Linked DNA regions of Homo sapiens. The protein of the gene in region 1 interacts with the protein of each later gene in a biochemical or structural test. Each region holds a gene or a part of one and is shown in the gene's direction. Other genes may lie near its edges.

What was found.
Region 2: the proteins of HNF1B (region 1) and SOX10 form a complex in vitro, tested with the Homo sapiens proteins (one study listed by BioGRID).
Region 3: the proteins of HNF1B (region 1) and LHX4 form a complex in vitro, tested with the Homo sapiens proteins (one study listed by BioGRID).
Region 4: the proteins of HNF1B (region 1) and PAX8 form a complex in vitro, tested with the Homo sapiens proteins (one study listed by BioGRID).

The regions. Positions count from the first base shown.
Region 1 is NC_000017.11:37,700,021-37,707,219, reverse strand, and holds part of HNF1B (hepatocyte nuclear factor 1-beta), read left to right. Parts: exon of another isoform or gene 1-2,170; coding exon 2,171-2,303; exon of another isoform or gene 2,304-2,480; intron 2,481-4,323; exon of another isoform or gene 4,324-4,395; intron 4,396-6,042; coding exon 6,043-6,237; intron 6,238-7,199. UniProt on the Homo sapiens protein: Transcription factor that binds to the inverted palindrome 5'-GTTAATNATTAAC-3'. Binds to the FPC element in the cAMP regulatory unit of the PLAU gene. Transcriptional activity is increased by coactivator PCBD1.
Region 2 is NC_000022.11:37,981,545-37,989,699, reverse strand, and holds the start of SOX10 (transcription factor SOX-10), read left to right. Parts: upstream 1-5,144; 5' UTR 5,145-5,361; intron 5,362-5,831; 5' UTR 5,832-5,915; coding exon 5,916-6,343; intron 6,344-8,155. Other genes in the region: POLR2F (DNA-directed RNA polymerases I, II, and III subunit RPABC2), read right to left, coding at 3,388-3,546. UniProt on the Homo sapiens protein: Transcription factor that plays a central role in developing and mature glia.
Region 3 is NC_000001.11:180,261,200-180,268,398, forward strand, and holds part of LHX4 (LIM/homeobox protein Lhx4), read left to right. Parts: intron 1-5,003; exon of another isoform or gene 5,004-5,031; coding exon of another isoform or gene 5,032-5,054; intron 5,055-5,192; coding exon 5,193-5,395; intron 5,396-7,199. UniProt on the Homo sapiens protein: May play a critical role in the development of respiratory control mechanisms and in the normal growth and maturation of the lung. Binds preferentially to methylated DNA.
Region 4 is NC_000002.12:113,275,899-113,284,078, reverse strand, and holds the start of PAX8 (paired box protein Pax-8), read left to right. Parts: upstream 1-5,157; 5' UTR 5,158-5,248; intron 5,249-5,609; 5' UTR 5,610-5,684; coding exon 5,685-5,709; intron 5,710-8,180. UniProt on the Homo sapiens protein: Transcription factor for the thyroid-specific expression of the genes exclusively expressed in the thyroid cell type, maintaining the functional differentiation of such cells.

The DNA.
Region 1 (7,199 bases):
CGCTTAATTCCAGGAGTTCGAAGCTGCAGTGAGCTGTGATCATGCCACTGCACTCCAGCCTTGGCGATAGAGTAAGACCCTGTCTCAAAAAAAAAAAAAAAATTAAAAATAATAGTTGCATTTTAGAATGGGAAGTAACTTGATCAAGGTTGCCCAAACTTAGTAAGTGAATAAGATTTAAGCTCCAGCAAAACTGGATTTTAACTCTGGCTTTTTCACTTATGAGTCAAGTGACATAGAAATAGTCTCAACTCTTCTGAAGATCAGTTTCTTAATCTGTAATACAGGGACTGATAGTAATAATGCCTGCCCTACTTGTGTCATTATCTATTAAGGACAATCAGTGAAAGCACTTTACAAATCCTAAAGTCACACACATTTAAATTATTTTTATCATTGGCCTCCACACTTCTCTTATACCATTAACCAAATGCTGAAATGTCAGAGAAATTACTGTCACTTGGTTGACTTTCTCCAAAGGAACTACATTACCCAAGAGATTCAGTCTGAGGGCAGGCTACGGATTTTTTTTTTTTTTTTTTTAATGACTGGTATTTTGAAAAACAAGTCCAGCAAACAGGCTGCTTCTCTCTTGTTTGATGTGGTCAGAATTCCTTCTTGGTCATGTGACCCCCTAACATTTCTTGATGCTTATTTTAAAAACACAAACAAACCTGTTTGGTTTTTGCTTTCTTTCTTTTTCAAATTAACCTTGGACACTATGGAGTTGACCGGAAGGGCAGGGTGGGAGATAGCATCTTACCTGGGTGCTGGTGGGAGAGCTATCGTCTGAAAAGCTCTGGGAAGTGAAAGATGGAAGAAGGAAAGTTGAGTTACTCAGACATCTGGTGCATCCTAACCCTAAAGCACCTCTCGGGGTTCCTGATGCTCTCAAGCACGCCTGGGTTCAGAATAAGAGGGGCCAGTCCTTTCTTCATAATAACTTTAAAAATTATTTTGAGGCTGGGCACAGTGGCTCACACCTGTAATCCCAGCACTTTGGGAGGCTGAGGTGGGCACATAACCTGAGGTCAGGAGTTCAAGACCAGCCTGGTCAACATAGTGAAATCCCGTCTCTACTAAAAATACAAAAATCAGCCAGGCGTGGTGGTAGGTGCCTGTGGTTCCATCCACTCGGGAGGCTGAGGCAGGAGAATTGCTTGAACCCACAAGGCGGAGGTTGCAGTGAGCAGAGATCATGCCACTGCACTCCAGCCTGGGCAACAGAGCTGGACTCCACCTCAAAAAAAGAAAAAAATTATTTTGAAACTATAAGTAGTAAACTAATGTATCATGGAAAAAGTGTAGGTGTGTTTAAAACTGATCGCGCCCTTATAATTACAATTAGAGTTAATGGGAAAACATTGGAAACATTTCTGATAACATCAGAAGCAAAATAAGCACATCTATTACAGCTGTTATTGTTTAATACTGTAAGTTCTAAGCAATATAATAGGACATGTAGACATATCAGTACTAGCAAGGAAAAGACCCTGTTACCATCAGATGCTTGTATTACAATTACATACTTGGAAAAAAATCAATGAGGAAAAGACACTAGTAGGATTCAGTGAAGTGGTCATGTACAAAGTAAATACACCAAAATCAGTAGCTTTCTCATACTAATCTGTCATTAAAATATAATGGTGATTACAATATAGGATCCTTGACCAAAAAAGAAAAAAAATTTTGTAATGTGTACTGGAGATGTGGAAAAAGTAGAGAAACCTTGTAATGGCTAATCTCCCCCAACCCTTAGTAATTTCTGAAGCTGGCTAGTAACTCAGACAGTCAACAATAGATGCACCATGAGGGCAGGGATCACTGTCTGTTTTACTTACTGCTCTATCCCCAGCACCTAGAATAGTGTCTGTCCCACAGTAGACACTTAATAATTGTGTTTTTTTCTTTTTTTGTAGAGATGATTTCACCATGTTGCCCAGGCTGGTCTTGAACTCCTGAGCTCAGGCAGTCCTCCTGTCTTGGCTTCCCAAAGTGCTGGGATTACAGGGGTGAAGCACCATGCCCAGCCAATAATTGTTATTGAGTGAATGAAGGAATGAATTTGAGAACTAGTCATGCCAAGGAATCGCTAAGTCACATCGTGTTGGAAACTGCTCTTTGTGGTCCAAGTCCACCCATGTTTCTCTTGTTTTTTTCTCTCCATCAGATCTCAGTCTCAGGAGGAGGTTTGCCCCCAGTCAGCACCTTGACGAATATCCACAGCCTCTCCCACCATAATCCCCAGCAATCTCAAAACCTCATCATGACACCCCTCTCTGGAGTCATGGCAATTGCACAAAGTAAGTTCTATTCTTGGTTGGAAAACTTGGGGGCAGGGAGAAGAAGAATGGGAAGCAAATTAATGTGGTGAAAAATAACTGTAGGTCTCCTTCAAACTCACCCACGACTAGTAGATTTGGTTTAACTTCTTTAGTTTCTCATCTGTCTCCTTAAATCCAATATTTGGATTGTTTAGCCTAAAACAAGAGAAAATTGTGGAATGGATTTGGATCCTGGTCACAGTTTAGCAGCTGTGCATCCTGGGTCAAATCATTGAACCTTCAGGAGATTCAATGTCCTCATCTATAAAATAGGTTGTTAAAGTGATCAACTGACAGTGAATATGAACATGCTTATAAATCTCTAAAGCATGAATATGTATAACATCGTAGCTTACACTTTGTCTTGAGTTCATTCCTATCACTAAGTAGGTGGTAGATTTTTCAGGAGGTTCTTTCTGTTTGGTGATGATGAAGTAAGAATGACAGGTTTCCTTCTAAATGGGGAGTTTTGTGTGGTATATGAAATCTCCTTGGCCAGCAGTGAAAATACACCAAGGGAGGATCCAGAGGGAAACTGCCATTGTATCTGAGAGCTTTGAAAACTTTAAGGAGAAAAAGCTTGCTTTGGCACATCACACGCCTGAAGACACGGAGATGGATCAGGTCCCTCCAGCTCCAGGAGGCTCATATTCAACAGCAAGCCTGTGCCCTCCCATACATGGGCCATCTTGAGGCATGAGAAGGCTGAAGGGAACTGTGGTTGTGGATATCTCTTTGAGAGTTTTAATGTTGATGAGTATTCAGCATATTTCCAGCTTCACTATGACAGCTCAGGTGTCGTTGTTTCTCAAAACCATCCTTGTGACCCTTGGATGTATTGCTGGATGTCTTGGGAGAGATCTAAGGGTAACACATTGGTCATCTTTCTTTCAACCTTGTATTGCTCCATTGTCCTCTTACCTTCCTTGTATCTAGGGCTCATGTTGGCCACCTCTTTGTTTTGTTTCTGCCTTTTTCTTTCTTCCCTCTTCTCTCCCTAAATCAGCTTTAGCTAGGGTCGGAACTTGGATTCTCACTTCTGAAGAGAATGACTTACACATCCTTTGAGGTCAGAACAGGGCTAAGCCCATTGGAGGCACACAAATTTATTGAATATGTGTGGCTCTCACTCTATCCTTAGCTGCTTGGAAATTGACACACAGTGCATTGATTTTGGCAGAAGGAAAATGGGAATGGGGAAGCATTTAGAGAACTCACAATATAAATGATCATTTTAAATGTATTGCCTTTTGACTGGGCCCTCTGGTATATGGAATATGGTAATTATACTAATACCAGAGTTTGGAATGAGATAAGATACCTAAAACCAGCTTGTTTGCCATTTAGAAGATTTGATTAAAAGGCCCGTGGGGAAGATATTCCACTTATTTCTGCAACCAAAATAATAAACAAACTGTCCCACTTAACTTCTTTCTTTCCATTCTAAGCTTTCACTGCCATACAGTTATATATATATATATACTATCTGAATTAAAATTTTCCCTGGGGCTAGTCTGCATCTTTCCATTTTGTTCTTTCTAATTTCCTCTACTCATATTTCTCTATCATTTCACGATGCTCCTTAATCTCCTATTCAGATGGGCTGCACCAGAGTGCACACTGACCTCAGAAGGATGGCTGTGTGTGTACATATCTGTGTACACTTGGGGTAGACAGAGCATGAGAAATGGTGAGAATCACCAGAAGACTGCTGAGACACAGAGGTCCTACACTATGGAGTGTTAGGATGAGAAACTGGTTGCAGGCATCTTCATTTAACTGACTGATGTGTTGAGTACCATGGGCCCTGCCTCAGAATTGCGGAAGCCTGTGGAGAAGGTGGTAACAAATTATTTGGCAGGGCCAATTCCTTATTCTCTACTCATTCTCACCTCTTCATCCTATTCTCTTTCTCATCTCTTCCCTGGACTGGATAGCATACTTCCCAAGCAAGAACCAGTGCCCAGAAACAGAAACAGATGAAAAGGTCAAGACTTACCCACTGAGGGAGCTGGAATGACATCAGAGGCTCTCAATCCTGGAATTGAGGCACATCAGGATCACAGACTGCATTGAAAATAAGATTCCTGGGCCCCACCTCTGAAGGTTCTGACTCATTAGGTCTTGGGTGGGGCCCAGGAATGTATATTTGTTAAAGAGCTCCCCCAGATGATTTCTGAAGCACATGCAGGTTTCAGAACTATGCCTTCAAATGTCATCCACTCTAGACAGGATCATTTGCTTTTTTGGGCAGCAGTTTCTCAAAAAGAGCAGCAGCAGTGCTCTCAAAGATTTCTCAAAAACGGCACATTCATGGAGCTTTCTGGGAGACTGAGACCATAAGCAGGAGGTAGGAAAGGGAAACACGGTCATCGGTCATCAGGGTATCTGGTGAGATGCTGGCTTGAGGAGACGCTGAGCCCCCTGGGGAACTGGAGACAGTGCTGTTCTGAGGGTGATCAGAGGGTGGCACCCCCAGCCCCCACCCAGGAGAGCCAGAAGCAGGATTCATCCCCTGTCCTTTCTGCTCAGGGGTCTCGCCTTTTAGGTTTCTGATAACAGTATCAGCTAAAGCTCTGAGTAGGCAATTGTTGAGGACTCCGTGTTATCTCCATTGATGACTTCCCTCAAACCTGCCTATGAAACCGTCTCCATTTCAGGAAAGCCTCTCTAGGTGTCCCTTCCACATCCACCTAAAACAGACCTTTTTCTGGATTCCTTCTTCATCCCATTCTTCCCCCAACTTCCCAGAAAGCAAGAACACAGGAACACAATCGACCCCAGGAAGCAGGTCCAGGTGTCTTCTCTCCTGATCGTCCTGTCCCCACTCCGATCCTACCTTAGCTGTCTTCCTCCGTGTCGCTCTCAGGGAGGAGATAGAGCATGGGTACCAGGGGATCCAATCCTCAGAGTGCTGGCCCGGGTTCTAAAGAGGCCTCAGGATACACAGTTCCAAGTTACAGAGGCCCTGACATCTCCAGAACAGAAAGATGGGAAGACCCACTATAAATGCCAAGAGTCAACCTTTAATGTACTACTTCCTCTTTCTAAAACCTGGTCCTTTTAGTGCCACAAGCCCTATGCTGCCACATAAGATATGCCCGCCTCGCAGACTGGCTGAGTTCCAGTGTTTTCTCCCCTCTCTGTTACAGTCAAGGGAGTTGGCACCTGATTTCTCTGGGGGTCTTTGTACAGTCTACTAAATAAGGGTCTCCCAACCTCATACTCCCGGGACTATGGAAGTTGTTTTTAGTCAAAATTTGGGTCCCTGCACACTCCTGCCCTCTACTGGACAGACCGATCTGGGCAATAACCTGTGCCTCAGTGTGGACATCTTTAACTCTGCCCTGCGGGCACCAGGGCAAGCCTCTCTCACAGCCTGGCATGGATGGAGTGGGCAGGTAGAGCCAGCTTTTCCAAAGCCCTGGTAACCTCAAGAGAGCTAAGTTTGGGAGGTCACAGGATGACTCTGGGAGACTCTCAGGCTTTAATCAGATCTGTTTAATGCCCATCTCCAACCCACAACTCATTGTGGAACTTGAGCAAGTAAATTAATATCTCCAAGTCTCCGTTTCTTTACACTTGCCTCCCATGGAATCTCCTATGTAACAGGCTCAGCCCGGTGACTGGGACATTGAGCGGGGGCTCAAATGATGGCATCCATCCACCTCTCCTTATCCCAGGAGCTGTCTGTGATCTTTTCCTCTTGCTCCCACAGGCCTCAACACCTCCCAAGCACAGAGTGTCCCTGTCATCAACAGTGTGGCCGGCAGCCTGGCAGCCCTGCAGCCCGTCCAGTTCTCCCAGCAGCTGCACAGCCCTCACCAGCAGCCCCTCATGCAGCAGAGCCCAGGCAGCCACATGGCCCAGCAGCCCTTCATGGCAGCTGTGACTCAGCTGCAGAACTCACACAGTAAGGACACGGGCATGTGGAGGGAGGGAGCACTCAGGACCCTCAGTGGCCAACCACTTTCCCTCTCTGGGTCTGAACTTTCTCGGAAGTTTATTGGCTTGGTCACTTTTCCCTGCCTATGATCAACCGACTAAGACAATTTCTCAAGCATAACTCTTGAGTGTTGCTGTACCTTTTCTAGTCCTCTTCTCTACCCCTGAGATTCCCAGGGAAGGGTTTGAAGAGGACAGTGTAGGCCTACAGATGAAGGGGAATTGGAGCCAGACAGCATGTGGAACACACACCGCCAATTTCCCATTCCAACACCTCTGGAAAAGATCGCGTCCATAAACCACCAGCACCTTTTCCCAGTGAACTTCAACTTAGCCTTTGCAATCTAAACTTCCAAGCAGCCATTATCAAATGATCACAATTGGCATCTAATTTGCATCCTGTTTGCCTTCCCTAAAAGAGAAGAATCTTCTAGAGTCCCGTGTCCTCCAATTTATACACCCCAAACATCTCTAATCAAGAACCATGAACACAAGTGAAAAATACCAGTGGCATGCCATCCTGGGCATTAGAGTTTCTTCCTCCATGCCACCCCTGCATCTCTGCACACAGACTGTTTCTCATATCCAATTTCTATACCTACCCCAAGCCTACCTTTCGACCACTTATTTCCCATCCAATCCCATCCTCTGTTTCTCTGCCTTTCATCCTGAGTCCCAGGCTTCCAATCCTCTGGCCAGGTCTGGCTATAGCCCCTGACACAGGAGTTTGGGGAGGAATCGTGGCTTCTCTGCTTCAGAAACCCCAAGGAAGTGTTCAGTATAAAGCACTAGTCTTAGATCAGACAGACCTGGATTTAAATCCTGGCTGTGATACTTACCAGCTGTGTAGCCTAATGCAAGTTACTTAGCCACTCTAAGTCCAATCTCTACATCCATAAAATGGAAATAGTATGCATTTAGAGTCATTAT
Region 2 (8,155 bases), on another chromosome or scaffold:
TCAGGCCTGTCACTGAATCGCTTTGTGCCTCAGTTTCCTCCCTAAAATGAGAATAATAGCATCTACTCAGAGGGTTGTTGGGAGGATGAAGTCCGATGACAGGAGCCCTCACAGCTGAGCCGGCACCTGGGGAGGCCCTAGAGTGTCGCCTTCGCTGTTAAGGGGCATGGCAGAGGAGGCCCACCCATGACAGAGGAGCTTGTCATCCCAAGCAGGAATGCCACCTGGTCTGACATTAGGATTCAAAAGGCAAATGATAAACTCCTGACTGTGAGGCCGTGGTGGCTGCTCGGTTAATACTTGTGCACTTGACCTGAGGTGAGCATCCTCCACACCTCCCAGTGCTGGCCTAATAGCTAAATGATTTCCTCTGACTCACATTTATTGAGCAGTCACTATGCTAGGTAGGGGAGATGTGTGTGTGTATTCTTATTTAATTCTCTCATCACTTGGGGATATCAAGGGTGCATAAGATTATCAACATCGTACATATGCAAAAGCCGAGTCCTGAGAGGTTAATAGCGTGATCTGCCTAAGGCCCCTTGGGTACTAGTGGCAGGATTTCTTGACTTCAAGTCACTTTCCACTACATCCGAGACTGAGGATGACACAGCCTTATCCAAAGGTGGAGGTGGCCTAGAAAATGCTCAGGGGAGCTCCCACAGCCACCCCAGCGCACTCAGACTCGGCTGAAGACCCACAGGGTAGCTTCTGTCTGTCACTATGCTGCCCTCGACCACTAACCTGTGCCCGTCGGCCCTCCACCTTCCCAGTGCATAGGCCCTCCCCTGCCACACCCCAAAGCTCTCCGGATACCCCAGTATAACCTGCCTGGCTGGTGGGTCCAGTACCCAAGACCCCTCCTCCATCCCTGGTGATTTTGGCTCTGGAAGGGGGTCATTCACAGCCTCAGGGATCCAGAGACTCTGTGAAGACCTCCCAGGGAACTTTATGCTTGTACCTCAGCCCCAGAAATTCAGAATCAACCAGTCTGGGGTGGGATCTAGGCTCCAGTATGTTTTTTTGTTGTTGTTGTTGTTTGTTTTTATGAGACAGAGTCTTACTCTGTCACCCAGGCTGCAGTGCAGTGGTGCGATCTCGGCTCACTGCAACCTCTGCCTCTTGAGTTCAAGTGATTCTCCTGCCTCAGGCTCCCACGTAGCTGGGATTACAGGTGCGTGCCACCATGCCCAGTTAATTTTTGTATTTTTAGTAGACATGGGGTTTCACCATGTTGGCCAGGCTGGTCTCGAACTCCTGCCCTCAGGTGATCTGCCCGCCTCGGCCTCCCAAAGTGCTGGGCTTACAGGAATGAGTCACCACGCCTGGCTCAGTATGTTTTTCTTTTTTTCTTTTTTTTTTTTTTTTTGAGACAGAGTTTCGCTCTTTTTGCCCAGGCTGGAGTGCAATGGTGCAATCTCAGCTCACTGCAACCTCCACCTCCCGGGTTCAAGTGATTCTCCTGCCTCAGCCTCCCAAGTAGCTGGGATTACAGGCGCCTGCCACCATGCCCAGCTAATTTTTTTTTTTTTTTTTTTTTAGTAGAGACAAGGTTTCACCATGTTGGCCAGGATGGTCTCAATCTCTCGACCTCATGATCTGCCCACCTTGGCCTCCCAAAGTGCTGGGATTACAGGTGTGAGCCACCACACCCAACCAAGGCCCAGTATGTTTTTCTTAACTCCACAAGTGATTGTAAATTCAACAAGAATTAGAGCCAGTCCTAGGCAACTGATTAGAAATGCAGAACCTCAGGCCCCACCCCAACCTGAAGAATCCCAGTGCGCCTTCCCATTTGAGAAGCACTGCCCTACGCCAAACCCCGTATCCGCAAGCCAGGCCCTGTGAAAGGCCCCCGCAGGGAAACTGGAGGTAGGAGGGCACACAGTCCAGATAGAATTAAAGAGTGGAGGCCAGGACCCCCCAGGTCGCATCCACACAGCACTCAGAGGTGCTAAACGCTTTCCCTGTGTTCCCTCATCCCATCTCAGCCCTGTCCTCTGAAAGTCAGGAAGACAGTCTCATGCCTGTGTGGGGAAACTGAGGCTGGGGCAGAGCCTCAACTTGACCAGACCATCCCTCACTCCTGCATGGCCCCTGGTTCTGCAGCCAGCAGATTTCCTGACCTTCATCTCAGTGTATCCTTCAGGGCAGGCAGGGAGGGAGGGTGACCATCGCCCCACGTGACAGGTGAGGGACCAGGGACCCAGTGGGGGAACACAGGCGGAGCCTTCCATAAAGCCGGACCAGCTCCCTCAGGAAGAGGACTTGGGAGCTGGGGGGTGAAGGGTCACTGCTGACCGGAGGCAGCTCTGCCAGGCAGTGTCATCAGTGGGCTTCACGTTTGACTGACAGGTATTCCTTTCCTCTCCTCCTCTCTGGGGCCCATCTTCTGAGTAAATCCGGGACCTGCCTTAACAAAAGCCAGGCTGAGTCCCAGGAAAACCCTGTTGCTCCGGAAAGGCCTCCTTGGGCCATGGAAGGAAGCCTGGATTTCCACCATTACACTCAGACCGCAGACCCCTCTCTGCTGCAGAATAAACACCCTGAGAGAAGGCAGGTCATAGAGCCTACCAGACACCACACCTTGCCATGGACGGTGACAAACCCTCACTTCAGGACAGAGAGGTGATGGGGGGTGGGGTAAGGAGGTCACAAGCATCCCTGGAGAAGGGTCAAGAATGAGGGGGTAAAGGGACCCCTGCCACCCCCAGCAGGGAAAGGAGGAGAAGGTGACACTGGCCCTCCTGTTGTCCTGCTGGGGCAGAGGCCCAGGTGTCTTCAGCCAGGATCCCTCCCCTCTCCAAGCTCCCTGCTCTTCAGGAATGACTATGGGTCCTTCACCCTTGCCTGCTGGAGAGCACTGGGTTCCCAGGGCCTGGGATGGGATGGAGGGGATCCCAGTTGCCAGCATGGTGGGCAGGGATGTGTTCGCAGCAGGGGCCCCAACCACACACACACAGCACTGGTCATCTGACAGCCCTTCCCACCCGCCCTGCAGGCCCACCTGCCTCACCCAACACTGCTCAGCAAAAAGCCCAGCACAGCCCTGAGAGGAAGGCAGTGTCTGTGCGGGGACAAGGGAGAGAGAGAGGGAGTGGCCCCTTCTGTCTAGCGTGGCTTCCTGCAGACAGAGCGTGCCCACTGCTACCCCCACCCCCATCCTGGCACAGCTGGACCAAGGAGGGCAAAGGAGGAAGCAGGGAGTTAGAGAGGGGGCAGCTGTGGGACCCCACATTCCACCTCCTAACTCTGGGCTCTTTCCTTCCACAACCACCCCTCCTGCCCCAGGCGGGTCTCAGGCCAGTCACAGACACAGCAGAGAGCGGGGAGGTCCTTTCCTCAAAGAGGAGGAACTGAGGGGTGGAAGGATGAGTGGGGACCCACCGGGAGAGAGAGATGCCAGGCAGGCAGGCAGCGGGCGGGCAGCAGCGGGTGTTGGAGGCGACTGCAGGGCAGCCGGGACACGACGGCAGATGCTCGTCCCTCGTCCCTCTGTCCATCCAGGGCGGCTCCTCTCCGGGCGGTTCTGAGGCCGAGCGGGCGCTGTTAAAAAGCTTTTTATGTGTGTGTGTGTTAATCACATGATTGCCGTTCACCTGTATTTCGAACAAAGACAGCTCACTGTTTCAAGGCCCCGAACAAGAGTCTGGGCACAGGGAAGAGAAGGGAGGCGGGGGGAGGAGGGTTGGCAGCGCCGGGGGTGGCGTCGAGGAAAACTGGGGGGAGATTGTCCAAGGCCAGCAAGCGAGAGAAAGAGAAAACCCTTATCAAACTCCTAATTCACTGGGCTCCGAGGCCCCAGACACACTGGCCCGATTGTCTGGCTGGTTGTGTGTGTGAGCATGTGTGTGTGTGTGTGTGTGTGTGTGTGTGTGTGTTCCAGTGTCTGCTCCCCCCACCCCCAACATGCCTCTGCCTCGTGTGACTACCTCATTGTGTCCCATTTCCCACCCCCTACACCCCTTTGGACTTTCCCAAGCATGAGGCCTTGCCTCCCCAGACCCTTTGCAGCCCACTCCAGACAGGACCCCTTGGGGTGGTCTTGGGGCTTTGCCCTGCTGTTGAGGAGCTCAGAACGTCACATGGTTGCCAATGCGACCCCAGCTCCATTACATAACCCACATACACCCCACCTCGGCCTCAACACCCCGGCGGGGCTGCCCTCAGTTAAGAGAACAGCACTGCGACCTTTGGAGGAGAGGCCAAGGAAAGAGAGAGAAAAAGGTGTCAACGGAGGATGGGCAGGAAAGAAAAGGGGAGGGAGGGAGAGGTGGGCAGAGGAGGGAAGAGGCAGGGCAAGTCCCCACCCCTTGTTGGGGTGGGGGAGTAGAGGACTTCGTGACAATCAGGACTAGGACTCCCCTACCCTCTCCCAAGACAGGGTGAGCCCAGTGTGGAAGGAGCTGGGTCCCAGTAGGTAGCAACCCAAAATGCCTCTAAGACCTACTGAGAGAGGGCCCCCAACCTGTCCCACCTTGGCCTCCTGGCAGCTTTAGTCTTGTGTTTCCACCTTGAACCAGACCAGAACGCGCGTGTGCTGGGTGTCTGCAGAGAAGGGACCAGGGGTCAAGCTGGGGCTCTGCACTTCTCAGAGGGATCCCTGAGAAGTCTCTCTTACTGTGCAGGATGGGGCAGAAAGGGCTGCCTGGGAAAAGGTAGGAGGCAGGGTGAGGAGCTGGGCATCAGTGCCTGGCACACACTAGGCACTCAACAGGATTTCGCAGACGAAGCAGCTAGGGCCAGCCACCCTCACGGGCCCCCAGGACCCTCACCGCCTTCACGTCTCTCCCTAGTCCCCTGCCAAGTGCCCATCCTGCCACCTGAGGCAGACGTTAGGAGTCCTGGTTGGGCCCAATTTTCTTCCATCCAACAGGTTCTGACCCTCCAGCCTACATCTCTTCCTTCCTCGGCCTAACCTCCCCTCCACCTCCCAGACTAAGCCCAAGATAAGCCTCAGCAAGATGGGCCTGGGCAGTAGGGCAGGGAGCTGGGTGGGGGGGCCTGGGCTCCGGGTGGAGGAGCCCTGAGTGTTGGGGATGAAGGAAAGCCTGGAGGCTCCACCTTCTGCCCTTCCCTCCCTCCTCTCCCCTCCCCCCTCTCCCCCTCCTTCCTTCCCCAGCCCTCCGCAGCGGCTCAGGCTCAGTCGCTCAGTCAGTCTCGGGCTGTCCGGCCAGGGTGGTTGGTGGTAAGGATTCAGGCTCCGTCCTAACGAGGCCGTGGCCTGAGGCTCAGGGCCCCCCGCCCCTCCCTCCCAGCCCACCAGCGTCACCTCCCAGCCCCGAGCTGGACCGCACACCTTGGGACACGGTTTTCCACTTCCTAAGGACGAGCCCCAGACTGGAGGAGAGGTCCGAGGAGGTGAGTGCGCAGCCTGCTCCTCCCTGGCCCGCCCAGGCCTGGGACCCTGCTGTGAGGTGGAGAGAGGCGACACCCCGCCCTTGCCCCCCACCTGGCTCTCCTCTAAACCCCGTTGGGGCAGGCTGAGGGAAGAAGGAAAGGTGAGAGAAAAGGTGGGAAATTCCAGGGGCCGGGATTAGAGCAAAATAAAGGCTCCGTTTTTTTCTTCCTTATCATCAACAAACCTCCACCCAAAAAAGGAGGCTAAAAAAAAAGCCACCCACACCAAGAGACGGTTGGGACCAGGTGGTGGGAAGACACAGAGGCGGGACGCACCCACCTAGAGTCTGGCATGTGCGTGGGCCCCAGGGGCCAGATGGGTTTAGCTGGAGCAGGAAGGGCCGCCACCTCGGGGCTGTGCCCACGTCCTGTCTCGGGCCGCCCTCGGGGCTGCGCGCGCGGCCGCTCCATCGCGCCCTCCTTCCATCCAGGTGGGCGTTGGACTCTTTGCGAGGACCCCGGCGGCTGGCCCGGGGGAGGCGGCCGAGGCGGCGGCGGCGGCGGCCGGGGGCGACATGGCGGAGGAGCAGGACCTATCGGAGGTGGAGCTGAGCCCCGTGGGCTCGGAGGAGCCCCGCTGCCTGTCCCCGGGGAGCGCGCCCTCGCTAGGGCCCGACGGCGGCGGCGGCGGATCGGGCCTGCGAGCCAGCCCGGGGCCAGGCGAGCTGGGCAAGGTCAAGAAGGAGCAGCAGGACGGCGAGGCGGACGATGACAAGTTCCCCGTGTGCATCCGCGAGGCCGTCAGCCAGGTGCTCAGCGGCTACGACTGGACGCTGGTGCCCATGCCCGTGCGCGTCAACGGCGCCAGCAAAAGCAAGCCGCACGTCAAGCGGCCCATGAACGCCTTCATGGTGTGGGCTCAGGCAGCGCGCAGGAAGCTCGCGGACCAGTACCCGCACCTGCACAACGCTGAGCTCAGCAAGACGCTGGGCAAGCTCTGGAGGTGAGCACCCGACCGCCCCCCGGGCTCGGGCCCTCTAGCTTCGGGTGGATTCAGGGTAGCCGAGGCGGCCCGGCCTCCTGCACCTCAGAGCGGGACTGTCTGGCAGTCCTCCTTGGATAGGGCTGGAAGACCAGGTGTGGGGGCCGCGCCCGCCCTTCCATCACAAGGACCCTGGAACTCGGAACTCCAGCGGCCTAGGCCGGGTCTCCCTACGGGGCGGCGGGCAGGAAGGCGCCCCCTCGTGGTTGGAATTTTGCGGGTGGCAGACCGTGGGGCCTGGGGCTTTGGAGGGAGGGAAGGAGGCCTTCACTAACTCCTGCCCACAGATACGCACACTATGCCACCAGCTGCTGTGGTCAGGAGGATACGAGGGAAACGCTTGGAAAGAACCAAAGGGTTGGCTGGAGATTCAGGGAAACTGAGGCAGTCAGATGGAGAACTCAGGGGAGGTTTAAAGAAAACGGAATTCAGATGAGAGTCTTTGGAAGAGTGAGGGATGAAGAACTGCGGGACAAATCTGCTGCTGCGGGACCTCATCCTATCCTAGGGCTCTTCCCTGGGACTTTCTGACGCCACCCTCCTTTGAGTTGGGGGCTTCTTCATCCTCCTAGGGAGAGGACACACAGTAAGGGGCTCCCCCTCCTGCCCTGCCCCAGAGTCACCAAGCTGATCTCTTTCCTCCCTCTCCCAGTTCGGCGCCATCTTCCCTGCCAGGGCCCCACCCCAACGTTGAGCAACCTCTTCCCCACTGCCCCAGAGCTGGAGCTGAGCACTCTGGCCAGAAGGAAACCTTGGCCTCCTTCCTGCCCAGGGGCCCTCAGAGTCCCAGGTTCCCTGGGACCAGCCCACACCTCTAGGAAAAACATCCCCCGCAGGGAGCAATTATCCCACCCTCGACTCAGGTCTGGGGTTCAGCCAGGCCTCCTGGGGATGTGTGGAACAAGACAGTCCCCCACTCCCACCCGGGAGTGCCAGAGCAGCTCTGAAAGAGACCAGGGACTCCAGGAGATGTGAGCCGGTAGCAGTCACCTGATTCTCGCTAGACTGACCAAGAGACAGGCCCAGAAAGGCAAAGGAATCACAAAGGTCACATAGAAGTTGGTAGCAGAGCCAGGGCCAGAACCCAGGACTCCCATACTCTCTGTCCAGAGGACTTCCCCTGACCCTGGTGACAGTGGTGGATCACCTACACTTTGAGGAGTGGTCAGGAGGTTGGGGGGAAGCAAGAAGATGAGAACAAGAGTGAGGAGCATCTGGGTTCCAGAAAATTAGGGCTTTGTCAGAGGAGCCCGGCTCTCTTCCGCTGCCCTCCCCCTTGCCAGCCACAGTTGGGTAGAGATTGGGTCTAGAGGCTTAGAGTGGTAGAAGGTGCAGGAGGATCTCCAAGAGACCAAAAGATTCACATCCCGCCCCCTGGCCTGTTCTTGCCATGTGTTTGCTGAAGACCTGGTGCCCCTTCCCCTGCCCCTTCTCAGCCCTCAGTGCCCTGCTCACCCAGGGCAGGCCCAGGGCTCAGCGACCAGCCCGCTGTGTGGACCCAGACAGCCCAGTTCTGCCCAAGAGCAGAGGTCACAGCTAGCTCCTCCACCCAAGGTCCATCCAGATCTGGGTGGGGCTTGGCCCAGGCCAGTATCTTTAGTGCCAGGGGACAAAGAGCAAGTGAGAAACAGACAACCAGGAGAGACATACAGATAGGGCAGACTCTGGGGACCATGAGAAGACCACAGTACGAGCCCAACGAGAGTCAAAGCAAGGACGGACCTCATTTTCCCTCCATCTCCCATTGCCAAGGGTTTAAGATTGGCTCCTCCA
Region 3 (7,199 bases), on another chromosome or scaffold:
AGGCCGGGGAGAGGGGAGCTGACCGCTGGGCTGCAGCACAGCTCTGGATGAGTGGGGCGCTGCCCTGAAGGGTGCGGGGAGTGGGCGGTAGAGAAGGGAGGCAGGCAGGGATCATAGCATGCCTGTACATGGATGGAAGGAGCCAGCAGAGGGGAAGCTAATGACAGCAGAGGCAAAGGGGATGGCTCACACCTGTAATTCCAGTGCTTTGGGGGCCAAGGTGGGAGGATCACTTGAGACCAGGAATTCAAGGCCAGCCTCGGCAACATAGTAGGACCCAATCACTACAAAACATGTCTTAAAAAATGAGCTGGGCATGGTGGCATGTGCCTGTGATCCTAGCTGCTCAGGAGGCCGAGGTGGGAAGACTGAGAGTTCGAGTGCAGTGAGCTATGATTGTGGCACTGCACTCCAGCCTGGGCAACCGAGTGAGATCCCCTCACCCCTAAAGAAAAGAGCTTAAAACTGCTTCTCTGCTCTGAGAAGCACAACTAACTGCCTTCACTGAAATATACCTCAGGCAGAGATTTGGGGTGAGATAGTAGGTCAGTTGATGTTCTGCAGGAAGGGGCAGCTTGTCCATATCAGCTCGCTCACGCCGCCAGTCCATTCTTAAGGAACTGCCAACCAGGACTGATGATGCATTTTAGCTTTGAGCTTTTGGGGGTTATCCTACCAACAAACAGTCCTTCGGGAAGAAAACAATCCCAGGAATTAACAGATCAGAATGTTCACACTGGTTAATCTTTTTCTAGCAATGAACATGAAGCTAGCAGAAGCTGGTGTGTTTCCAGATGGTTCCTCTAACCAAACTAATTTTTCACTGTTGACAAGTGAGGCAAGGGTTGCACTGGACCAAAGGCTGAGGCTTGGCCATCTAGCATTCCATGCAAAATGGTTTCCTATAAGCATTCCTTTTATTCTCTATTCTATCCTGGGTCTGCCTCAACCATGAGATAGGAGAGTCTCCGGTACTAGCTGCTGTAGCACTGCCCTTCATCCAGGACAGTTAAAGGAGTCTTGGACCTTTCTTTCTCTGGGATCGCTGCCCAGCACCTTCCTACAGAGATGACTTTGAAAGGAAAAAAAAAAAAAAAAAAAGGAAAAACAGCACACCATTCCAAGGAGCCTGGCATTCCTGAATCCTCCTTCCCTACAAGGTGCCTGTCACCTGTCTTTACTGCCTCCTTTTCCCTGTCATGCTCATCAGCTATGGCTTCTGTCCAAGTGCCTGAACAGAAGACTAGAACCTCCACTGCAGGCTGGTTTGAGGTCGTGATTTATGTCAGAATCTTGCACAGCACTGCTAATGTAAATTTCAGCTTTTTCCCTCTAGGATAAACACTTACCAAAGTATGCAACTTTTTTTGGTGGGAAGAGGGATTGTCCTGTGATTTCTACCCATTTTCTGAGGCCTGTGGAAATAAATCTTTAGGTACTTAAAGTTAGACCAAAAATAGAACAAAGTTAATACCAAACTTGAAAAAAAAAAAAAAAGAAAAGAAAAGAGCTGCCATTATGGAGAGCCAAGCCTCCCCTGACTACTCAGGCAAATGTTTTAAGAAGCAGTTCGTTCGTTCACTCATTCGTTTGCTCATTCGTTCATTCATTCATTCATTCATTGGGTCTTTGTGGCTTGCCTACTATGTGCTGGGCAGGGATAAGACAATTTCCAGTGGTGTTGGTTAGAGGATGAAAATAATATGAGCCATTAGCAAGTCTTCCTTGCATTTTCTCTGTGGTTTTGGATCAGCTCCAGCTGCTCTCCTGGGGGGACTGGTTGTCCCCAGAGGCCTGGCTAGCAGGACTGGGCAGCAGGCTTATCTTTCTGAAGGGTGAGGCCAGTGCCCTTGGTGCCCCTGCATGGGTGCCCGGTGATCGGTGTTAAGGGGTGCTGCTTGGAAAAGCCCTTGGGAGCCCTCTTCCTTGGCTGGAGTCCAGCCTTTCCCTCTTTACCCCAGCGTCCTTCATATTTGGTCCAGTTGGTTAGACTTCTGGTTCTCTGTGTAGCAGCCGGGTTCACAGTTTTACCTCGTGTGGGGCCAGGGAATTCTAGGCATGACCGTGTGTCTCATTATTGCCTGTCGCAGGGCAAGTCATGTGACCTGCCAGGCTTTGGCCTTCTCACCTGTGACTCTGGCTATTCTAAGATCTGGGAATGGGGACAGTGTCTCCATCACAGACACACCCCTGTAGGATGCCCTGTATTCTAGATACACTGGCTCTGACTGGAGATGGGGTGGAGGGTGATCTGCAGGGCTGGGCTGGGCCGGGGGAGCCTTGTGGGCCAAGGAGGTGCTGCATGCGGCTCCCTCGGCAAGGGTCCCGCTGGCTGTGCTCCAGGGGAAAAGGTAATGAGGAGCCACTTCCACTTCCCTTCAGTATAAATCCCACAATCAGGAAAATTGCTTCAATTGCTAAAAAACGCTGGTGGGGAAGTCCACTTATTTTTCATTTTTCTTGTGCACTTGCCACCCTCATGCATGAATCACTGTCGGTATGTAGATTAAATTTATACCCCCGTTATCTTTCATGTCTCTGGTGTGCTGGTGTCAGCTGGGCCTCCGGTGACTGAAAGCCCCCTGCCTGCTTTTTAGTGGGAGAGAGTGTGGCCCCTGTGGAGGAGGCTGCTGAAGGGTCTTCCCTCTGTTCCGGGGTCTCCTCTCAGCCCTCCTCTCCTTGGATCTCTGGTTAGGACACATTCTCCAGATTTGCGTGGTTTGTTGGGAGGGTTCGCAACAAGCATGATGAAAGCCTTGTTTCATTTTAATTAATTAATTTAGAGACAGGGTCTCGCTCTGTTGCCCAGGCTGGAGTGCAGTGGCGTGATCTTGGCTCACTGTAGCCTCAACCTCCCTGGGCTCAGGTGATCCTCCCATCTCAGCCTCCCAGGTAGCTGGGACTACAGGTGCACACCACTACACCCGGCTAATTTTTTGCATTTTTTGTAGAGGCAGGGATTCACCATATTGCCCAGGCTGGGCTCAAGTGATCCTCCTGCCTCAGCCTCCCAAAGTGCTGGGATTACAGGCGTGAGCCACCACACCTGGTGCCTTGTTTCATTTCAGTACCTGCTTTGCAAATTGGCTGGGATTGGATATTAAATATACAGGCCTTTTGAAAACACTCTCTAGTAACACATGTGTAGGCTTCCTTTCTCTGTTATACACACACACATAACACACACACACACACACACACACACACACACACAGTAGAGGTGGGTGCCTGCCAGCCTTCCTCTTTGATCCAGGTGATGTGGTTACACAGCAGTTGTGGAGGACCTGGTTCTCACCTGTGTTCTGGGAGGTCTAGAACCATCCAGAGCCGACTGTGTGCTTTGTTCTACATCCTCAGGTTCGGCCATCTCCGTGCACATCCTCTACAAGTATGGTGCTTTATCTGCTGATTTATTTATTCAACAAATATTAACTCTACTTTCCTGGGTCCTGAATCCCTTTAAGAATCTGATGAAAACCCAGGTCCCCTCCTGAGGCACAATTTTGAACAACTTAGCAGGTGGTTTACAGGCCTATGCTGACCCTCACGCAGAGAACTCCTGCTCTAAATGGGCCCCATCTCTCTGAAAACCAAGAGGCATTCCAGGAATTCAGAAGCCTGGGGTCCTCCCAAGCCACCACCTCTCAGCCCCTCACACCCCAACACCCTTCTTATACCCATCTCAGAAGAGTGTTCCCTGAAGTACACTCTGGGTCTTTCAGGATTACCCATGCAGACTTAGAGAACCCCCACTTTTCTCTGGGATGCTGTGTCCCTGGTGGGGGGCGTCTGAGGCTGCTGCTGGCCATGCCTATTCCGGGCCCCCATAACCCCCTCAGCAGGTATCATTACTGCATAACAGACCTATCATTCTGCATTAATCTGGTATTCATCATGATAGCCATGACCATAATTAATTTATTTGGTATTAATGTGGATGAAATATGTACTGTCCTTTCAGGGGAAATCAGGCTGCCTATAAGCATTAGTTAAAAGGACCATTAAAATCAAACCTTCCCCAGATCCATTAGGCGAAGTCTTTCATCCTGAAGAAGATAAAGTTCTGCTGTGTGAAATGTCATGAATAATTAGGTTGATTGCTGTTTTAAACTCTGCCCTTGCTTTCCCAATGCCTCCCGCCTCCCTCCTGAAGCGGGGAAGGCTCACCTGCAGCCACGCACCCTCCTTCACTGTCCCTGTCGGCCCCCAAATTTCCCTCGTCTCCTATGACCATCGGTGTGCCTCTGTTGATCTCTATGACCAGAATGGGGAAAGGGAGTGGAAACAACCCCACTGGACGATACTTTTAAGTGTCAATTTCTCCTTCCTTCCCGGCCTTGGCAGGGGGTGGCTTGCTTGGTAGAAGCTGCCTTGGTGGCAGCAGGTAGCTTCCTTTTGCCTCGGTGTTGTTCTGGAAAGGTGCTGACCAAGGAGAGGTCTGAAGCAGCATTTTCCAAACTGTAATCTGCAGACTCCTTGTCCCGAATGCTGTAGGGGCTGAAAAGTGCAGCTTCCTGGGCCCTTCCCAAACCACCATGCCCCAGGCTGTGTGCGTGCATAGGAAGGGGATGGAGGTAGGCTTGGAGGGCTTTGTGTGTGCAGAATGGAGGTGAGGGGAGAAATGGAGGCAAAGGAGAGAGAACAGCTGTCAGGACAGCCTTGCTCTGCTGACAAAGTGCATTTTCTCTGCAGCGTGCTGTCCCCTGGCCAGGCAGGGCCTCCTCCCTGGGAGTGTGTGAAAAGGTGTTGCTGGGTGCTTTCTACACACAGCCTGTGGCACACACAGTTCCCTGTGAGGATGTCCTCTGGGATCAACCATAAGGGTGAGGAAGCTGGGAGGTGGAGGGGGAGACAGCCTGCTTTGAGGGACTTAGAAAGTCCACCTGCTCCCCCTGTGAATTGATGGGTGTTAATCGGGCAGCTGGAATCCGGGGGCATCAGCTTTGGAAAAGGTACCTGAGGGAGACTCTAGTTCTCATCAGTCCCTTCTTTGGTGGTTGAAGAGTCCCAGGCACAAAGCAATGAAGCTAGATGGAGGCAGAGAGGACCAGACGGTAAGCTCTGGGTGACTGGGGGGTGAGGCTCATGGAGTCCCGGAGTGGTGGGGTAGGAGGGAGGCTGCTCCAGGAAGTTGGGGGAAGCCAGATCCCTTGCTCCCTGTGTGCCCTAATCCTTTCCTGCTGCCCTGACAGGCGCTTCGGCACAAAATGCACGGCCTGCCAGCAGGGTATCCCCCCAACCCAGGTGGTCCGCAAGGCCCAGGACTTTGTCTACCACCTGCACTGCTTTGCTTGCATCATCTGCAACCGGCAGCTGGCCACGGGGGACGAATTCTACCTCATGGAGGACGGGCGGCTGGTGTGCAAGGAAGACTACGAGACAGCCAAGCAGAACGGTAAGCAGCATGGCCCCGCATGGTCCCCTCTCCAGGCCTTTGTTTGGGCCACGCCCTCTGCCTGAGGTGCCCTTCTCATGGCGTCCCACCTGCCCATCCCTCAGAGCCCTACTCATGCACCGCCACCTCTGAGAAGCGTCCCAGATCTCCACACTGAGAGTAAATGCTGAACACCTCCCCGGCCGTTAGCACTCGCCGGCTTCATGGAAGTGTTCATCCAGCCATGGTTCCTGAGAGCCTGCCTGTCTCCATGGTAGGCTCAGAAGCAGCCAAGAACCTGGTTGTTACCATGGTGGTGGCCTCCTTCCCTGGGTGGAGGCTGGGGTGCTGAGGGGTGGCTGGGAGCTTGGTCTGTATTGGACACGTGGGGCTGCCGCTTAGTTTTGCACATCAGGGTGCACATGGACCTCTCAGCAGCCCCTGCCTCAAAGGCCGTCGGTGAGAGCCCAGCACTGGCCTCTGCACACTTCATACATCTGTCTGTTAATTGTGTTCTGTTCGCCTCGCAGACTGTGGGCTCCTCTAGGGCAGGGCCTCCTGGAGTTTCTGCAAGTGCCCAGTGAGTGCTAAAAGAAGAGGCAGGACACATGCCAGATTCAGGGAGGCTCCGTCTCAGCAATATAGCTCCCTCCACCCACTTCAATATAGCTGCCCCCACCCCCTTCACCACAACCACTGCAGGGCCACTGCCCACGGTGGCAGCAGGAGCTCTGCATGGTGGAGGCCGAAGTCAGGTCCCGCATTTAGCAGCCACGCCTGGAAAGGCCTAGCTTGGCCTGGCGGCAGCGGCTCTCGCCCTACATGCCATGCGCTTGGGCAGCCCGGGGACTTTCCAGCGTAGAGCCCAGAACAACACATTCCCCATGCTCCCCTCGCAAAGCCAAGGTGGACACTTTTATTCCTGCAGCCCTACCTCTGGCTTCTCACTCCCAGATGCACCCACATGGTCGTGGGGTCAGGCCCTGGCTCTGAATTTGGGATTTGGCCAAACCCAACATGATAACCTCAGAGGTGTGAACGCACAAAACATCAAGTTCCTTGGCCTTTGACTAGAATTTTGATCAACTCAGGGTGTTACTGTGCAAAAACGGCTCTTGTTGACAGCTCTGGGCTTGATGAGAAAAAAAATTAACAACAATTTTATGTATCTCCTTCTAGATCTTTTCTGGGCCCACACACATATTATACAGATCTCATCAATAATGGAGAAACTGGTTTTTTGTTCATTGAACACAGTATAAAATAAGGGGATTGTGGTGGTGAGGAAGCAGAGGGGATTCATAAGGGCCCTTTAGGTGAGCCAGCTGGAGCTGGGTTTGGCTTTGGTCCATGGCAGGAGTGGGCAGGGCTTCCTGTCTCTTTGAGGACCTTCCCTCCCACCACCCCCACAGCTCTGGCCTTTCAGGGTGGACAGAGGCCTTTGACCTCCTTCCTCCAGAGACCTGGGGCCTCTGCAAACCCATCCCAAGGCTCTTTGCCTGCAATGTACTAATCTGCTCTGGTTTCTTAAAACTCACTCCATGCTATTGCCTTGAAGTCAATTGTGATGTCATGGGAGATTAGGGCAACTTGTCAGGGATGAACCATCACAGCAGATGGACTCAGAGATACCAAGACACCTTTGGAAGTCTAGTGCCGTTCATCAGAGATACTAAGATGGCACGACCTCCCCGGCCTGCAGCTGGTTCTCATCAGAGGCCTCATTTGGACTCTGAGCACTCTCAGCTCAGCATCTCCTGATGTTGTGGGTGGTTCAAGAGACAAGAGAAACAGATGTAGATTGGTCAGAATCTGGCTGGGGAGG
Region 4 (8,180 bases), on another chromosome or scaffold:
CCCTGGCACTGGTCTGAGAGGATTCCTGCGTCCTGACTCCTGCTGCTCTGGGCTGGACCACAGGGGCCTAGCTGAGGGGAGGGCATTCCTGCCTGGTGAGCTGCTCTCCTCTCCCGTGGTAGGAAAGTTTTCCAGCCTTGGGGGTCTGACCTCACCCTGGCCACTCCCTGGGTTCCAGAAACTTCCTTCCTGAGGGGAAGGGGCAGGTGTGGAGAGTAGCAAAAACTAGGCTGAAGTGAGTAGAATTTATAATATTTAAGGCAAAGCCTGAGTCACTGGTGCTTTATTTGGCCACCTAGTTGGCTGTCTGCTAGCTGGGTGGCCTTGCTCTCTACTTACCTTCCCTAGAATCCAGTTTCCTCATCTGCAAGATGGGTTGCCAAAAGGGTCTAGCTCATTTTTTCTAACTTAAAAAAAAAAAAAAAAAAAACTATGATTACTAGAGAAAAAAATTGAGCTGTGTACGTCAATCCTTTTATCTCCCTCTGTCACCTTCCTTTTTGTGTCCCCAGGAAGTTTTTTTTCCACCCATTTGTAAGTACCAGGGTCTCCTTCCAGAAGCCCAGGCAACTGCTGCCAAAGGCTGTGGGGTGGGCAAAGAGCCCAAGGGACAAGTGCCCAGGACACATCCCTACCCAAACCAACTGGACAAATGCCACCAGTGGTTTCTTCCAAACTGCCCTCGGCAGCCCAACCAGTGGCTCTTTTCCTTTCACCTGCCAGGACCTATATTTCTATTTCTGAGTTTTCAAAGCCTAGGGAGGTGGAGAACCTGGAATAATTAATGATTGATTTTCAGGCACTGCCACCAGGAGGCCCCAGGGCAGGCTGTCGGCCATTTCCTGAGTGCAGGGACAGGGTTGAAATCCCACGTGGCTTCGGCAGGATTGGGCAAGTCTGTGAGGGGAGAGGGTGGAGCGAAAACTGCCAGTGCCCTGAACACTTCTGCCCTCTGCAAAATGATGAAGTCGCTGCTGGAAGTTCTGCTGGGGTGCTGGCCTTCTGCCATTGACTCTCCCCTCTCTCTGGGTCAACGAATGTTAATTGCTGCCCTCACAGACACCCCTGCCCCACTGCTACCCTTGCACCCACGCCTGCACCCACAGGCACGGGCTCACTGGCCCTTTCCTCTCCAAGGCTCCTTTGGGAAAGGATTAAAGGAACCGACTTCCACAGCAAAACTTTAGGGACATTTTAACTTTGCCCTCTTTGGATGTATTCCTCTGCCTTTGTTGTCTAATAATAATTAACTTTTGTACAGAGGTGTAGTTTTCAAAGGGCCTTCACATTCATAATTTTATTCGTCCTCACAACAAAGCTACGAGGTGGGTCTGACCCTCCCCAGCCCCCCGTCTATATCCACATCATGCAGAAGGGGAAACTGAGGTTCGGGCAGAAGAAATCATCCCATTCTACACAATTAGGGCTGGAACACTCACCTCTGATGCAAAGTAGAGAGCTGCTGTTTTCTTCCTGAAGGGATGTACTTTAGTCCCAACAATGGTTCGTTACGTAGGGGAAGTGGCATGGTGGCAAGTAAGCCAGGAGGATTGTTGGGAGCAGTGGTCTTCCCTCGAGGCTGGTCTCTGGGCATTGTGCCCAGAGAAACCAGGGTACATAGGAGTAAGAGGAAGAGCTCATGGACCTACTGGAGTTCAAGGGTCTCAGTCACCTGAGCCAGCAGGTAGAATGACCCAAGTGTGCAAACAATCACCCACCCAATAGTCAGTTGAAACACGGCAGCTTATAAAAGACCCCCAAACCATCCCACTCCCACACTCTAATCAGCTAGGATGACCAATTCATCCTGATTTGCCCGGGAAAGTCCCAGTTTTAACTCGCATCTAGAAAACACTGTTGGTTTTCGTCCAGGGCAAACCAGGGCACTTTATTACCCTACCACCAGCCCAGTGCATTACAGCTGAGTCCAGAAAAGAAAGAACATCTTTTGAAGGCTCAGCAGATCAGCATAGAATTAAACAAATTGTGGGATATTATGCAAATTCAAAAACCACTGTAGTTAGGCAATTACCTAGGATTGTTGGAATGTTAAACCTGAAAGAATGTTCATTTCCACAAAGAAACGCTCAGATCTGCGGCCAGATCTCTTGCATTTTCAAAGGCAAGGCAGAGTTAGTCTCTCGTCTCTACTTCTGTATTTTGATATTGGCAATGAATTACATTTTCTCAAAAAAACACTGAGTTTAAAAAAATTATAACTAGTTGCCAGTTGATAATATTGCCACAAAAGCCTTATGGGCCTCAAGCCTGAGAAGAAAAGTTGGCAAATGAGGTATTCATTTTAAAAAGTGAGTTCTAAGGCCTGGCCAGGCACAGTGGCTCATGCCTGTGATCCCAGCACTTTGGGAGGCTGAGGCAGGCGGATCACTTGAGGTCTGGAGTTCGAGACCAGCCTGGCCAATGTGGTGAAACCCCGTCTCTACCAAAATATAAAAAATTAGTCAGGCATGATGATGCATACCTGTAGCCCCAGCTAGTCGGGAGGCTGAGGCAGGAGAATCACTTGAACCCAGGAGGTGGAGGTTGTAGTGAGCCGAGATCATGCCACCGCACTCCAGCCTGGGTGACAGAGTGAGACTAAGTCTAGAAGAAAAAAAAAAGAGTTCTAAAAGTCCCATTGAAAGTCTATTAGTCACAGTGCAAATTTATTTTAAAATTTCAAATATCATCATAGGAAGGCATATGATTTTTATTCTTAACTAAAAGCATCATGGATTTTAAGTTTGAAAAAATACTGTGATAATAGGTGATTTTAAAAATATATGTATTTCAAACCTTTCGTTTTGCAGAGGAGGAGACTGATGCCAAAGAGACAGAGTTAAAGCACCAGTTAATGACATTTCCTTGGCCTTGGTCTCAGAGAATTAGGAAGTACCAAGGAACCCAGGCCTGATTTCTGATTCTAATTAGAAGCAGGGTCAGTCCAGGAGGCCTGTGTTTATCTCTGCAGCAGAAGTTCACTGCATTCTCACTTCTTGCTCGTCCTAGATCTTCTCTGCTGAGTCTTCTGGTCACCTGCTATGTCACCTGCAGTCTGGAGAAGAGGTACTGTCAAGGTGTGGGGTGTGTTTTTCCCTGAGGAGTAACCTTGAACAGTGCACATTGTTTTTACCTTGAAATGAAATTTTAAAGATAAATTTATACATGGGACAGGAATGTTCTGATAACTTGCTGGATTTGTCCTCTAAGAAATTTTGCCCAAAAAGGGGATAGGAAAGGGAGAGGGTTCATTGCTTGGGCAGAAAAGATGTGCACAGGCAAGAATGATTGCATGAGAGTCAATGGTTATTGGTACGTATCAGAACCTTAGATTGGGTAGAATCTCTAAGGTTGTCAGAGCTGTTTGAAATGAGGGCGTATTAGATTCACCCTGGAGCATTGCCTCCCTGGTGGGAGGGAATCCTGGGTGGACAAAGAGAGTTTCTGCTGTGGCTGCCACACTCCACACCTCCCCTGCAGCAGGACACAATCCAGGGCAGCAAACTGGCCCATGGGGTCCGGAGGACCTATGCCAAGATCCATTTCCATCCCAACACCCTTGGATTGTCTCTCTCTGGGAGGGACTGCCAGAGAAGTTAGGGATCTGGAGCTTTGAAAACCACAGAGATATTTAAAATTACAATTTTAGAGAAAGATTTAAAATGATGAAGCACCAACTATTTTTGTTTACAGCCCCTCTTTGCAAATGTGGAGGAAACATGTAGGGATACACATCTTCTTCTCTCTTTTTTCACAAGATGATTCATTTCTCCTAAATTGAGAAATGAGAAAGACTGGGTGGAAGGAGGTTGTGGATTGACATGAAAGAGAAAACTTTTTTAATTCAGAAAAATAGTTCATGTGTTTTCACACACGTGTACATATGTGCATACACACACACACACACACACACACACACACATCCAATCCCCCTGAATATCCCAGTTTCCCCTGCACCTTCCTTGCCCCCCTCCCACTGGCTTCTTAGCCTCCTGTCCCAGAACAACCCCACCAGGCCTGCAGAGCCATCACTGAAAAGGGCATGGCTGTCCTCTAGACTGTAATCCTGAGTCCAGAGGTCTGGCCAAAGATTGGAGGAGCATCCAGGCCTTGACCCCCAGGCCTGCCAGTGTTCCAGGACATTTGCTCACTCATACCCACTCACAATCTTACGTGTACCCCGGTTCCCCGACTGAGAGAACTATGAGGAAGGAGGGGGCAGCTTTTGCCATCACTAAGGTAAAGAGGTGCCAGGCAGCTCTGCTCGGTCCCAGGGCTCACCAACCCTGCCATCATTCCCACCAGTGGACCCCTTCTTAACCACACCCAGGCCCCCATATTGCTGAGGCTATTGATTCCTACAGACCAGGCCAGAGGTCAGCTCAGTCCTGTTCCTTTCTAAGGCCTTTCCACACAGAGATGAAGTCTAGGCCCTCAATGCCCTTCCCCTGAACTCTTCTTCCAAGTTCAAAATCCTCAAGGAGCAAGAAAGAGGGCAGGTGGCTGCGTGTGTGTTCCAGAGGAGAGAGGCGAGGAGTTGCTGTGGAATGGGTTATGTGACAATTTTGTTAGCCTGACAATGCAAGGGTGTGAACGCTATCTGTGTAGAACAGAGGGAATGGCTTCAGGTGCTGCTCAGGATTCTTCCCTGGAAGAGGTCATAGCTGTGGTGAGAAGGTAATAGCATCTTGCCTACAGCCCCGAAAGCAGGCTCTACCTAAAGAATCAGGCATAAAACAGAAGTTCCCTCCTTCCTTTTACAAAAGAAAAGGCTGCTTCCTGGTGAGCAAACCAGGGGAGACAGGGGGCAAGGAGGGCATCCTACAGAGACCATCCCTCTCACTTCTGGTGGTCAGTGACCCAGGAGGACCCAGAGAACCTCATCCTCAGGCTCCTAGGCCTCTGTTCCCCACTCCTCCAATATTTCCAGGCCTGCTGAGTTAGGGCTCAGCTGCCTCCCTCTTCCCTCCGCTGGAAACAGAAGCTCCCAGCGAATGTTTCTAACTCCTGAGTCCACTCAGCCATGTCCCCCTTGCAAAATCCTCCCCTTCCCGCACCCCCCTGCACCCAGCCAGCCAATCCGCGGCCTACGAGCCTCGCCAGACCCATCTCCCAGGGCCTCAGCGGGATAAAACCGGTCGGTGATGCCGGGTGGATGGGAACAAACTTCAGAAGGAGGAGAGACACCGGGCCCAGGGCACCCTCGCGGGCGGACCCAAGCAGTGAGGGCCTGCAGCCGGCCGGCCAGGTATGTCACCCAGGGGTTAGCTGGAAGCTGGCTAGCAGTGAGGACGGGGGATGGAAGAAAGGAGAGGGTCCCAGGATGCCTGGCAGCCTTTTCCCTCCCAAGTTAAACGGGATAAGACTGGGACAGCGGAGGGAGTGGGCACGGAGGTTGGAGTCTGGAGCTTCTTCAGCGCACTCCCAATCCTTGATCCTCCCGGGAAGCCTGTTAGCTAGGCTAGGCTGAGGTTGGCCCTACTTCGCCTAAAAATCCTCCTACTCCTGGCAGACGATGCAGGTGTAAAGGATGAGGCCTGGGGAGGGGGCCTGAGGATGCAGGCATCGAATCTCATCGCATCTCATGCCCTTCTCCTGGGTTTGTGCAGGGCAGCGGCAGGCGCGGCCCGGACCTACGGGAGGAAGCCCCGAGCCCTCGGCGGGCTGCGAGCGACTCCCCGGCGATGCCTCACAACTCCATCAGATCTGGTAAGAACGCGGTGTGGTCAGGATCCCCGAGCCCCCGCGCCGCTGAGCGTCCGTGCGTGCGCTCGGGTGGTTGGATCTCGAGAGCGTCAGCACGGGATTCGCGGGACCCACCCGCGTGGGGACCCAGCTGGGGCGCCTGGGGCCTGGCCCTCCGCTGGAGCCGCCTCGCTGTTCTCGGGCACTGGGGTTCCACCCGGCCAGCTGAGCCGCCCTTGCCCGGTTTCGAGGGACCACATGGATCGGTGAGGGGATCTCTGTGGAGTTAGAGGGGGTTTCCTTTGAGCTCCATTCCCAGCCTTGCATGGCGCATTAGTGTGGACATTCTTCGTGCTCTGTCCCTGGGCTGCACCGGTGCTGGACTTGCCGTTTCCCCGTCCCCGACCTCTAAGTCCTCTTCCTCGGGTGCGCGCAGTCCTTCCCAGTGACTCCCCTGGCTGGACTGTGAGCTCCCCGCATCTCTCAAGCCAACGGCAATGGAGCCGGTGGTCCCGGGCCCGGGAGCCGGCAGCGCACTCAGGTGCTCTCCGACTCCTCCTGGCCCAGCACCGGGCAGGCCGGGCGCCGCGCGCGGGGCGTCCGGCTGGTGAGGACTAAGCCGCTCGCGGAGTCAAAACCCCCTCCCCACCTGCGCCCGGAAGCAGGGCCTTCAAACACACTCGAGCTCCCAGGCCGCGATGCCTGTTTTCCCCCTTCCCGGCCAGGGCTGGGCAGGGTCTTTGCTGGGAAGGAGCTCCAGGGTCAGGGCTGGTGGGCGCAGCCGTCCCGGCGCGCAGCGAGTGCGGACAGCGGTGGAGGCGCAGCGCGGCCCGCAGTGATGGATGGAGCCCGGCCGGCCGCAGAGAAGGCGATTTATGGGGCCAGGGCGCATCGCTATCGATTTGGGCCGGCGAAGTGAGAGGAAATCAATATTTCAGAATGAATTCTCCGCGAATATGATGTCCCGCTCTGCAAACGGGACATTTGTTATAATAAGGAGGGTCGGATCGGGCGCGCAGCGAGGCTGAGATCTCTATTTAGCCAAGCGCACTGCGGGGGCCCGGGCTCTGCGGCGCAGTCTCCAGTCCCAGGGCCATGGCCCAACTAGGAGGGGAGCGGGAACCCCCTGGGGCGCCGGAAGATTTCTCACTCGGGTTCTCTCTAGAGCTGCAGACGAATGCTCCCTCCCGGCCCCCATTCCCCTCAGAGACCTGGGCCAGAATCGTCCGGCTGCCCCCAGAAGGCGCGGGGTCCCTTCAAGGTCCTCAGGGGAGAGACCTCGCAGCCATTCCCCGGCGCGGCGGGGTTGGGGAGCCCTGGGACCGAGCAGAGCTCCCTGGCACCTCTTTACGGTCCGCGTCCTGGAACCACGAGCGCTCCTAGGCCACTATCTAAGGTCAGGATCAGGTTTTAGTCCCTTAATCTTTAGCCAAACCGTGGTACGATACCAGACATCGCCAGGACCATCCCTGAGGCCTAATGTGCAGTGCCCGGTGCCCATGCCAAGCTGGTGCAATGGCACTTCTGCGCCAAGCTGGTGCAATGGCACTTCTGCTCGGCTCTGGAGGTCCATCTTTCCTCCTAACCTTCCCCTGACCCTTCCGGCGGTGGCAGGAGGAGTGAGTGCTCTCGGAAATCAAATTCACTGTGGCCGGGCTGGACCCTTACTCTCTGCCGCTGCCCAAGAAATGAGACGATGTCCCCGTCCCTCAGATGAGCTTTTTTTTTTTTTCGCGGCTACTTATTTTCATTCTAGAAGTACTCGTTAGAATAGATGGAAATAGAGTATGGAAAGAATAAATAAAGGCACAATTTATTTTTACTGTAGTTTTAATCAGGAACAGTCCCAGATGATGAGATGCGCGCTTTCCCACTAGCTTGGATGCAAATCGCGCTTGGGTTTTGGGAGGGAGCCCTCTGCCCCTGGACCTACCAGGTAATTTTTTTCCCCTTTCTTCTTTTCGGGAAGACAGAGGGGCTTCTTCTACCCTCTTTCCAAAACAAATAGACAAAGTGGCGAGGGAGGGAAGATGAGACTTTCTTCTCATAGTTTAATTTAAACGCTAATAAAACAAGAAAATGGCCTATAACCGCATAGACTGCTGAAGGCGCTCCCTGTTTCTTTTCTGAACCCTCCCTCGGCAAACCTGAGGGAGAGGCCGTCTGTCTTTCTGATCAGCTTACCTGACACTGTTGTCTATAACCGGAGCTAAACTCATAAGCGGACCCCTCTGGTTTTTACAAGCCCATTATCTCTCGGGTTTTAGCAGGTTCCCCCTTTTCCCCAGGCACCTCTGTTCCTGAGACCGGCCGTGCTTAGGGAGCTCCCCTTGAGTTTTCTGTGAGCAGAGCCCGGGACGCAGGCGGCCACACGGCTTTCCGCGGGAGCGAGGCCGAGCGCACCCTTCCCAATAACCGGGGACGCTCGAGAAAACCTCCCCGCGCGGCCTCCGCCGCCCAGCCTGCCACGGGGTCGCCTCGTCGTTGGCTGGTCT